Homo sapiens: one gene and its partner. The protein of the gene in region 1 interacts with the protein of each later gene in a pairwise test. Each region holds a gene or a part of one and is shown on either strand. Other genes may lie near its edges. The genes, in order: HGFAC and VSIG1.

What was found.
Region 2: the proteins of HGFAC (region 1) and VSIG1 interact in binary tests that used the Homo sapiens proteins (3 or more experiments, as listed by UniProt).

Annotation. Positions count from the first base shown.
Region 1 is NC_000004.12:3,437,550-3,445,216, forward strand, and holds the start of HGFAC (hepatocyte growth factor activator serine protease isoform 2 preproprotein), read left to right. Parts: upstream 1-4,418; 5' UTR 4,419-4,452; coding exon 4,453-4,569; intron 4,570-5,182; coding exon 5,183-5,363; intron 5,364-5,500; coding exon 5,501-5,597; intron 5,598-5,791; coding exon 5,792-5,871; intron 5,872-6,489; coding exon 6,490-6,612; intron 6,613-6,761; coding exon 6,762-6,893; intron 6,894-7,073; coding exon 7,074-7,184; intron 7,185-7,269; coding exon 7,270-7,444; intron 7,445-7,667. Other genes in the region: RGS12 (regulator of G-protein signaling 12), read left to right, coding at 1,906-2,135. UniProt on the Homo sapiens protein: Serine protease that hydrolyzes the inactive zymogen hepatocyte growth factor (HGFsc) to an activated disulfide-linked heterodimer, then initiating hepatocyte growth factor receptor signaling pathway.
Region 2 is NC_000023.11:108,076,065-108,079,970, reverse strand, and holds the end of VSIG1 (V-set and immunoglobulin domain-containing protein 1 isoform 2 precursor), read right to left. Parts: intron 3,895-3,906; coding exon 3,753-3,894; intron 2,924-3,752; coding exon 2,590-2,923; 3' UTR 787-2,589; downstream 1-786.

The DNA of each region.
Region 1 (7,667 bases):
TGACAAGAAGGAGATGGGCAGAACTGTCCCCTTGTCCCCTGGGGGCAGGGCTAGCTCCTAGCCCTGGCAGAACCTAGTAGGACACTTGTTGAATGAGCAGAGGCCTGACTGGGAGAAGTTTCTAGTCTCAGCTGCTCCACATGGACCCCTGGGCCTCCAGATGGCATCTCCACCGGGCCTGGCTGAGTAAGACACACAGGCCCCACACAGCTCCCACATGCTGGCTGGGCTGCTGCGTCGAGGCCAGGATGAGGGCCTCTGGGGCCACTGCTGGGACCTGTTCAAGAGAACGGGCTGGGCACGCTCAAGAGGGGAGTCACACCTTCCGCCCGCAGCCCGGACTTGTTCACAGATGCCTCATGGAGGCTGCTTCCGGAAGCTTGGACTGAGGGTGAGGAGGGGCACGCTGGGATTGGGGACCTTGGTGGCCACGGAGCCGCTGGGGCAGCAAGGACCCTGCGGCCATTTCAGGGACCTCAGAACTGTAGATCGAGGAGGGTCTTCACCTTCCCAGGCCTTCGATTCACCTGTGGAGGGCAGCAGTTGGTAGCAGGGACCCCCTGTCCCTGGTTCTCATGTGCCGGGGGCTGGCTCTTCCTGCCTCCTGTCTGCTGTGGGCCCAGGCCTGGGGCTCCTGCCACCCCATAGGCGCCTCAAGGCCTCCACCCTGGCATGGACATGACTGTCTCAGGGCCTCAGCCCCAGGCTCACTGAGGAAGGGAGCTCCTGGACCCCTGCCTAGGAGACACGCTAGGTACGCAGGAACCTGCCCCCGAAGCCTGCTCCTCTGGGTCGGCAACGTCACCCCCACCGCACAGATGGGGGGGTGGGGTCACTGGGCGGGTCGGCAACGTCACCCCCACCGTACAGATGGGGGGGTGGGGTCAGTGGGCGGGAAGGGCTGGGCTCTCCCAGCACGGGGGCTTCACTGCCCCTTCCCAGGCCCTGGGGTCCTGCCATGGAGCTCCGGGCGGCACATGAACCCAGCCATTCTGCGTGCACCGTTCACTTTCCTTGGCCCCAGCCTTCGTTGGCCCCTGGGGACTCCACCCTGGCATAGACACAACTGTGTCTTCCAGGGGTCCACGTGGAGGTCACCAGATGTGGCAGGGCAGTGACGCCCTGGGTAGGGAGGCCTCCCGGGGGTGCTGGCAAGGAGATGGCCTGCCCATGTTGGGTCTAGAAGCTTCCAAGGCCGGTTCAGGCAGCCGGGATCTCCTGGGGCTGGAGTGGGCATTGGAGCCAGAAGTGGGGCAAGAGTCACTGACCAGCCGGAAAGAGGGGCCTCAGTAGGGGGGCCAGGGATGGAGGGGGAGGGGACACGACCGGGAGGCCCAGAGCAGGGTGTGTACGGTGAAGACGGTGCTGAGGCAGCGAGGCAGGTGGGCGAGCAGGTGGCCAGCCTGGCAGGGTGGGATGGGGCAGCAGACACAGGGCTCAGGGCCCGTTCCACCAGGCCAAGAGGGTCCAGCCTATCTGGAACTGAACCCTAGTGCTCAGCCCCCTGGGGGTGGCCCTTGAGGATGGGCCCTGGGCCTGGGGGGGCCCCTGAGGACGCCCCCAGGAGGAATTAGGGGGGCAGTTGGGGCGGGGGCTCTGCCGGGGGCCCAGCTCTGTTCCTGAGCTGCAGTGGGGAAGCAGGGTGGTAGGGTTTCTGAGTGGGTCGGCTCCCCCACTTGGTGGCAGGTGTTATGTGGAGGGCTCTGGGAACACTGCACCTCCCCTGGGCGTACCTGCCCCAGCCTGGAGGCCCACAGCGGGACGCCAGCTGCCTCTGGGATGTGTTTGGGATATTTCAGGGACCCCTACCATGCTGTCTGTGCAGGGGCCTTCGGGGTAGGGGGTGGGTTCCGGGGGCCCAGGGCCGGGCCAGGCAAGTGACAGCTTCTCTTCTCCTTGTGACAGGAAGTGGGACCCATGGCAGCCGAGACCTCCCAGTCAACAGAATCATCGATGTGGATCTTGTAACTGGCTCGGCGCCCGGGCGGGATGGTGGCATAGCGGGGGCACAGGCTGGCCCTGGGAGGTCGCAGGCCAGTGGTGGGCCTCCTACATCAGACCTCCCTGGCTTGGGCCCCGTCCCGGGTGAGCCTGCTAAGCCCAAGACCAGCGCTCACCACGCCACCTTCGTCTGAGCTGCCCTGGCCTGGCCAACTCTCCTGTGGACATGTCGGGGTGGGGCAGCCCAGGTGGATTCTGTGGGCCTCAGGGGGGCCACCCTGGCCACCACACCCTCAGGAGCCCAGCCAGGAGGGCAGGGGGTGACCTCGCTGGAGGCACTGGCCCCGGACATTCGCCATGCTGGCCATGGGGCTCCCTGGCCCTGGCCTCCTGCTGCCCAATAAAGCATTTCTGAGGACCCAAGCGTCGGCCTGGTGCTGGGTGCTGGGGACACAGACTCCTCGTTCTCGGGGACTCCGAGCACATCCCCAGGAGGTCATGCAGGAAACAGAGGGGCCTGAGGAGGAGAAGTGCCCCAGGGTAAGGTCAAGGGGGCTTTGAGGAGAGGGAAGCTTGGCTCCTGGGGCCTGAGGGCCAGGACCAGATGGCAGAGACTGGCTCTCGCCGTCACGTGGGGACCCTGCCCCAGCCTTGTTTAGCAGGGTGGTCTGAGGGCCTTTCTGGGGAGGGACCATGTAAACTGCAACTGGACGGCAGAGGAAGTCTAGAAAGAGCCCTGGGCCTGTGCCAAGGCCCTGGGGCTAAGGAGGGTCTGATTACAGAAAGGGAACCAGGTGTGGCTGCAGGGGAGGCCGGGGCCTTGGGGGCTGGGTTGAGTCGGAAGAGGCAGGGCCATTCCCCAGGTTGCCTTGATGGAACCCCTAAAGCCAAGTACCCTCGGTACAGGGTGGTTGGTGAGCTCCTCAGACCATCCTAGAGGCCCGAGAGCACAGCCAGTCCCCTGGGGCTGTTCTAGAAGCTTCCAGGGAGTGGATGCACCCCACTTAGTGGTGCTCTAGGAAGGGGGCTGGGGGAGGGGTCGGAATGGAAGATGAAGCCCAGTGCCAGCTGTGTGTACCACCCACCACAAGCCCGCATCCATCCTGCTCCCAGCACCCACCATGCCTCCACATTCACCGTGCCCCCAGGGCCCACCATGACCTCCCCCCCAACCCCCAACCCCCCATTCACCGTGCCCCCAGCACCCACCATGCCTCCACATTCACCGTGCCCCCAGGGCCCACCATGACCTCCCCCCCAACCCCCAACCCCCCATTCACCGTGCCCCAGGGCCCACCATGACCTCCCCCCCAACCCCCAACCCCCCATTCACCGTGCCCCCAGGGCCCACCACGCCTCCATGTGCACTGTGCCCCCTGGGGCCCACGGTGTCAAGCTGGGTGGTCAGTGGGTGTCCATTCTCTCTCCCTCTGCACAGACAGGCAAATGGGGGGCAGAGAGAGGGGTTTTAGGGGATACAGGGAGGCAGCTTCAGCCCTCGCTGGTCTCCAGGCCACAGTGGTTCACTCACCCCTCCTCCCACCTCGGCAGCCCTGGGATGTCGCTGCTGACTCAGGAGGAACCCGAGGTGCCGTAGCGGCTGCTCCAATATTGCAGAAGAGGTTCCTCAGGCAGCTCTGCCCACAGCCCCAAGTCACGAATTCCGTGACTCCAGCTCCATCCCAGGCCCCAGGGTACCTGGCCCAGGGTTGTGCTGCCGCAGACTTGGCCTGTACCATCCAGGCGGCGGTGGGGAGCTGGGGTTGGAAAGGCTTCTTGGAGTGGACTCCTGGGTCTGTCTGGGAGACGGGGAGGAAGGGACACTCTGAACATCACCAGGGGCTGCTGGGGGGCCCTGGCCACCCCCAGAGTCAGAACAGGCAGGTGGGGCAGGATCTCAGGTCATCCTATGCTACACTCAGCCATTGCGTGGCCCCTCTCCTCCCTGTGCCTGGCCTTTTGGCCAGCCCTGGGGCCACCGAGAGGATGCAGCACCGAACCCTCCAGGAGCCCCCAGTGCTGCCGTCTGTGGGACAGGGACAATCCCATCCCCACTGCTACTGTCTGTGCTGTGCTGGGCACAGAGCTGGACACCTCCAAGGCCCAGCGCCCGTAGTGGCTCTCATCATGGACAATTCACAGGCAGATGGTGGCCAGCTCTGTGGCCTGCAGGGACTGGGAGCGGCGCCAGACCATCTAGGCCCCAACCTATCTGCATTATCCTGGAAGACTTCCTGGAGGAGGCTTCTAAGCTGAGGCCCAAGGACCATGTCAGGTCTAGGACTAGGACCAGTGCAGGCCGAGGCCAGAGAGACAGCTGGGCTTCCAGGTAGGGTCAAAGTGAGGTGGGCAGCAGGTGTGGGGGCCAGGGGACTCGGGGACTTCCTCTCCGGCTGGGCCCGCCTGACGTGGGAGGCAGCCAGGGTTAATCATTTCCACGAAGCCTTGACCCCACCTGCCTTGGCCGCTCTGCTCCCGCCTCCCACTGCCCCTCAGGCCAGCTCAGGAGCCATGGGGCGCTGGGCCTGGGTCCCCAGCCCCTGGCCCCCACCGGGGCTGGGCCCCTTCCTCCTCCTCCTCCTGCTGCTGCTGCTGCTGCCACGGGGGTTCCAGCCCCAGCCTGGCGGGGTGAGCACTGACCTTGTCGCAGTGCGACCAGAGGTTCCCAGTGGCTACTTGGGGTCCTTGGGAGGAGGCCAGAGGGAGGGTCGCCACAGAGCGTGGGGATTTGAGGGGGCGGGGGTCCGAGCAGGGGGCTTACGTTGAAAGCTGGCCCTCACAGGGCAGGTGGGTGCTGGACTGGCCTTGGAGGCTGGGGCCTGGGCTCACGGAGCCCCACCTGGGGGCTGTCATCCCTGTGCGGCCTGGCCTGGGCCCCTATGGGTCTGGGGGCTGCCCCCTCTCTCTGGACCTCTGTTGGGTCTGGATGCGTGAGGTTGGGGGAACCTCCCAGGGCCTCCTAGCTGCTCCCATCACCAAAAACTGACGTCAGGGTTTAAGCTTGGTGGGTAGCAGTGCCTGGGCCTGGGCAGTGACCCTGAGCAGGTGTTAACTAGGGGCCGAGGGCGGGGAAGGTGTCAGGGCCTGGCTGAGGCCTCAGGAATGTCGTGTGTCCTCCTGGAACCTGCTCCGAGATCTGGGGGCCCCAGTATGGAAACAGGCTCAGGGCTGTGACCTCCTGCCCGGCAGGACCTGAGTGTGAGGGTCTGTCCCACACTGACACCCTTTCTGCTCCTCCTAGAACCGTACGGAGTCCCCAGAACCTAATGCCACAGCGACCCCTGCGATCCCCACTATCCTGGTGACCTCTGTGACCTCTGAGACCCCAGCAACAAGTGCTCCAGAGGCAGAGGGACCCCAAAGTGGGGGGCTCCCGCCCCCGCCCAGGGCAGTTCCCTCGAGCAGTAGCCCCCAGGCCCAAGGTGGGTCAGGTGGGCCTGGGAGGAGGTGTCGTGCTTCACCTTAGGGCTGGGTGGGAGGAGCATGGCTGCGGCTGGAGGTCCTGAGGGGCTCGGGTGCCCCTCGAGGGAGCCCTGACCCTGCCACCCCCTCCCCACAGCACTCACCGAGGACGGGAGGCCCTGCAGGTTCCCCTTCCGCTACGGGGGCCGCATGCTGCATGCCTGCACTTCGGAGGGCAGTGCACACAGGAAGTGGTGGGTCCGGGCAGCCGGGGCACCCGAGCTGGGGTCACCTGCCCCACGCTGCCTGCTTTTCTGGGAGCCGGGCACACAGTAGGCGCTCACCACGCAGCAGGCGGACCCAGTGAACCCAGAGACCCTCCAGGGTGGTGGGGTGGGGTGGGGGGCCTCTGCCTGGGACCCCCATGCACGCAGGTGTCGCCCCCCAGGTGTGCCACAACTCACAACTACGACCGGGACAGGGCCTGGGGCTACTGTGTGGAGGCCACCCCGCCTCCAGGGGGCCCAGGTGGGTGCTGGGTTGGGTAGCCTGGGGCGGGCAGGGGGCACTGGGCCAGGCCAGAAGGGCCAAGGGGAGGATGGGGCGGACCCGGGCAGGGGTCCTGGCTGGAGGGGAGCAGAAGAGGAGCTCTGGGATTAACCCCGGTGGGTGCCACTTAGGGCCAGAGCCTCTCCCAGGTGGGACCTGCGTCTCATGGTGGCTGCGCGGCCATCGCTGGGGCCAAGGCGCCGCCTGGTGGTGAGGCCGGGCCCTGCAGCCACACAGGCGTGCCCCAGGCAGGGGACAGGTGGGCAGGGTCTGTGGGGTGCGGTGCCAGCCGCCCTGCTCACATGGGTCCTGGGACACATGGGAGGGGTCTGCTGCCTGACAGTGTGGGTGTCAGGCTTCCAGGAAGCCACGTGCACAGCTGGGCCAGTGGCCCAGGTGTTGAGTGGGGGACGCTGGGAGGAAGGGGAGGTCTGTGCCCCTCCCAGGGACCTTGCACCCCGAGGGGCGTAGAGAGGGCCCCTTTGCTCTCAGAGCCCCTCACTGGGGCCTGATGGACGCCTTAGCAAGCAGAGAATGTCACAGAGGGACCCTGAGCCTCCCAGTCCGCCCCTCACACCCCCTCCCGCATGTCCCCAGCTGCCCTGGATCCCTGTGCCTCCGGCCCCTGCCTCAATGGAGGCTCCTGCTCCAATACCCAGGACCCCCAGTCCTATCACTGCAGCTGCCCCCGGGCCTTCACCGGCAAGGACTGCGGCACAGGTGAGCTGGGCCTCGGAGGTCCGCAGGGGTCCAGGGGCCGGAGCAAGTCCCCGGAGGATGGGAGAACAGGTGGCTCCCGAGTGCAGGGCAGGGGCCCTGCACGGGGACAGCAGGTGGCAGGGTGTGAGGGCTTACTGTGCACCCCTCAGAGAAATGCTTTGATGAGACCCGCTACGAGTACCTGGAGGGGGGCGACCGCTGGGCCCGCGTGCGCCAGGGCCACGTGGAACAGTGCGAGTGCTTCGGGGGCCGGACCTGGTGCGAAGGCACCCGACATACAGGTGCGCCACGGGGTGTGAGCCGTGCCACTGACCCCTGACGGGTGTCCCTGTCCACACCCGAGTGGGAGGAATGGCCTGAGGTCACCCAGAAACAAGGGACAAGGGGTGGACCCCGGCCCCGACTCCGCTGTCGTGGGGCACTGCGCGGCCCCTGGCCCAGCTCCTCGGCCCTGCCCCCAGCTTGTCTGAGCAGCCCTTGCCTGAACGGGGGCACCTGCCACCTGATCGTGGCCACCGGGACCACCGTGTGTGCCTGCCCACCAGGCTTCGCTGGACGGCTCTGCAACATCGGTGAGTGGGTCAGCCCCCCGGGGTGCCCTGGGGCAGTGCCGGGTGGACCCACCGTGGGCCGGCCTCACTGCCCCTCTGCCCGCAGAGCCTGATGAGCGCTGCTTCTTGGGGAACGGCACTGGGTACCGTGGCGTGGCCAGCACCTCAGCCTCGGGCCTCAGCTGCCTGGCCTGGAACTCCGATCTGCTCTACCAGGAGCTGCACGTGGACTCCGTGGGCGCCGCGGCCCTGCTGGGCCTGGGCCCCCATGCCTACTGCCGGTCAGCACCACGCCGCTCCAGGCCGCCGCATGCGGGGCAGGCAGGATTTGTCCTGGGGAGAGGCCCCCCGGCTCCCTAGGACCCAGGCGGGGCCAGCTCCGTCCAGACAGGCCCCGGAACCTCTGCCTGGGAGGCTGCCCGAGGGAGGGCCACTCTCTTCCCACTGCTCCAGGTGCGGGGAACCGCCCTGCTGGGGGTTCCGATGCCCCCTCCCCATGCCCTC
Region 2 (3,906 bases), on another chromosome or scaffold:
AGTGCTTTCTTTCCTGGACTGCACTGATCCATCAAAAATTTTGGGGTGTAATTGTTGACTATTACATGTCAGTCTCTTGCGATTTGCCTCTATAATAAAAATGGAAAGGAAAAATGAATTCCAGCTACTTGGGCATTCTGGTAATTGAGATGTTTACACTGTTGTTTACTTTTTAATCTCTAAATATTAGGTCATTCTTAAGACCTTCATTATTTTGCTTCTTGTGTCCATCAGACACCATATACCATACTATCATATTTAGTATGAATGAAATTATAAATGCATCAGAAATCCCTGACATTTTCTGAAAATGGACGCATCGAAGAAAATGCAGAAATAAACGCTTGCTATCTCTTCTCTCCATGGCTCTAGATAAGTGTAATGTTAATTTCCATTTTAACTCTCCTTAAAACCTACAGAGACTCTACCTCAATCTGTGTATGGTTATGATTTATATAGAAAGGAGTTTGCAGTTTAAGAAAATATTTTACATGAAAATCTGAAAGTGATAAATGAGAAACTCACTACTTTGTTTAAAAAGGATTCACCTTAGAAGGAAGTGAGACACAAAAAGTACATACTGTATCATCCCATATGTATGAGGGCCAAGAAAAGGCAAAGTTAACCTCTAGTGATGGAAAACAATGAGTGATTTCCTAGGTCCAGGGCAATGGTGGGATCGCACAAAGGGGCATGAAGAAACATTTTGGGCTGATGGAAATGTTTTCTCTCTAGATGGGTGTGGTGGTTTCATGGGTATGTGCTCTGTCAAAACTCATCAAATTGTACACTTTAAATGTCTGGTTTATTATACATAAATGCTATGTCAGAAAAAGTTGTTTATAAAAGGACTAGCCTTAGGAGTCACTAAAATGAGACATTATGAGTATTATTTATTGAGCCTTAAAGTAAGATTTAAATATGATTAATTCCACAAGTGAAAAGGTAAGTCTACCTGTAAGTTTCTTCAAGGTGAGATGTGGGTGAAATATGATCATGAGAAAGCTTTTCAACAGGGGAAGAAGAAGTGATATCAGTGCATTTTAGTAATATTAGCATTCATATAAGATTGGTATCGCTTTATTAATGTGGAATGTACAGGCAGTAAAACAGGTTATTTAATTAGTTGAAATTATCTAAAATAGATCTTAAGAGTTCACTTAGAACACTTTTCTGGACTGCCTTTCAAAGTAGATAACATCAGACACAGTGATAACATAATAACTCATTCAAAACTAAATTGTACATCACCTATGATATCAACATTTTGTATTCACTGAAGGAAATTATATTTGAAAGTGTTTGCCTGTACATTATTTGACAAAGTTGTGGGGATTTTTTGTTTTTTGTTTGTTTGTTTTCTGTTTTTGTTTTTGTTTTTCAGATGGAATCTCACTCTGTCACCCAGGTTGGAGTGCAGTGGCACAATCTCGGCTCACTGCAACCTCCACCTCCTGGGTTCAAGCGATTCTCCTGCCTCAGCCTCCCAAGTAGCTGGGATTACAGGCATGCACTACCACGCCCAGCTAATTTTTGTATTTTTAGTAGAGAAGGGGTTTCGCCATGTTGGCCAGGCTGGTCTCGAACTCCTGACCTCAGGTGATCCACCTGCCTCGGCCTCCCAAAGTGCTAGGGTTACAGGCAAGAAATTGTGTTATTTTTTAAATTTGCCATGCTCAGATATTGGATACCAGGGTGATTTCTTGGGAAATCTAATATGAGGAATGAAGCATTAATTATAAGACCTGATTTTAAATGCTACGTACCAATTAATGTATACCCTTTACATATTCTCCTCTATTGTATTTGGAGAAAATTTTCCAATCTATGAGATAATGCTGATGAATTATTTTCTTAGTGGTCAATATAAAAATGAATGAGGAACTATTCCTAGAAATAATATTGAATCTAATTAATGCCACCTTGTCATATGTGCATGTGGAACATAAGAGTAGCTAAAAAGAGGCCGGGCGCAGTGGCTCATGCCTGTAATCCCAGCATTTTGGGAGGCCAAGGTGGGCGGATCATGAGGTCAGGAGATGGAGACCATCCTGGCTAACAACGTGAAACCCCATCTCTACTAAAAATACAAAAAATTAGCCGGGCGTGGTGGCACGTGCCTGTAGTCCCAGCTACTCAGGAGGCTCAGGCAGGAGAATCGCTTGAACCCAGGGAGCGGAGGTTGCAGTGAGCCGAGATCGCACCACTACGATCACAGCCTGCGCGACGGAGCAAGACTCTGTCTAAAATAAAAAAAAAGAGTAGTTAAAAAGAGAGAAATAATATTTTCTGAAATAACAACACAGGTACTGTTGCAAAACTCAACTAAGTTAGAAATCACTTGCCCTGTCATTTGTTATGCTTACGTGTTAGTAAAATTGTTAGTATTCTATATTGGTAATACAGGAACCCTTGCTGATTTAGCTGTTATCTTGGCGTGTTTATTCTGGATTCATAGTAGGAATGAGCACCTTGTTAGAAGAAGGTTGGTCAAAATGGAAGGAGGAGGTGGAGGTTGGTTAGGTTATTTGAATTCCAAATGGCAGTAATGGGTTCCTTAATGATTAATGCTGTACTTAGGCCACCAGCCTATGCCTTAACCACTCCCTTTTCATCTTCACTTAAGGGCTCAACTACAACCCCAGGCTCTGACTCTGGCTCTGGCTCTGGCTCTGGCTCCAATTCCGACTGCGTTTCTGGCTCCAGCTCCAGCTCGATGTCAAGGTCAGGCACTGCCATAGGCTCTGATCCTGGGGCAGGCTCTGGGGCAGGCTCCTGAGTAGGCTTTGGCTCATAGTCTGGTTCTTGGATGGTATCAGGGCCAGTCTCATGAATGGAAGATGGTAGAGTTACTTCTAGTTGGGTAGCGTCTTCTCTTGGCATTGCTTCGCTTTCTCCCCTTGGGTTTATCTTTGTCATTGGCCTGCAAGAAAGAAGGCCCAGAAAAGAACAAGTTAGGGAGATGCTAACTTTGAAATTTCATGTGAAACCATATGTTCTGTAGCTTCAATGACCATAGGTCCCAGACTTCAGGAAATCTGTTATTTCTGATATTCTGACTCATTGTCAGGCCATAGGTCATTTTGGATTCAGAAAGGTTAGGTCTCAACAATATCATGAAAGTTTAAGAAAGAGCAGTGTTTCAAGGTGGGAAAATAATGTCAGAATGAAAGAGTCTAAGAATCTAATAAGGTCTTTAAGGTCCAAATTCATAGCTCTGATGTATCGCTATTTCTCACTCCATCTAGTACAATACTTGGCACCTGGTTGATACCCAATAGATAGTTGTAGAAGCAAGGAGATGAAAAAAAATGAATGAGTGAGATACACACTAGGAAAGAAATAGAGTGATTAAGAGCATGAGCTGTGGGCTGGGCCACATTCTAACTTCTGTGTTCCCTGGGCACTGTCCTTGTGGGTCTCTTGTTCCATAAAAAAATTTAAAATTATATTTCATGACTATGTTGGTATTAAGACAAGTATGTTAGTATTATATATGAAAATGTTTTCTTGGACCTAAAACTGTTGTGATAGCTAAATGAGTTGATGTACATAAAGTGCTTAGAACAGAGCCTGGCACACAGCACTCAATAAATAGCAGCCATCATCATTCTTTTTTAAATTCAATGAGAGTAAACAGAAAGATACCTCTGATATCTTATACTAAAAGGAGTGCTTAGGAATTGATGACTGAAAAAGACATGCCTGAGAAATGTTTGTATTCAAGTAAAGACAACAAAATGAAGGCTTACTCAAGTTCCGCGATGGTCTTAGAATTTCTTTCTTTTGCCTTTGCTTTTGCCTTATTCCTTGCGAAGCACACAACAGAGATGATGATGGCGGCACCTACCAGGCTACCAATCAAGGCCCCAACAATGATTCCAACTTCTGGATCTGAAGGATACA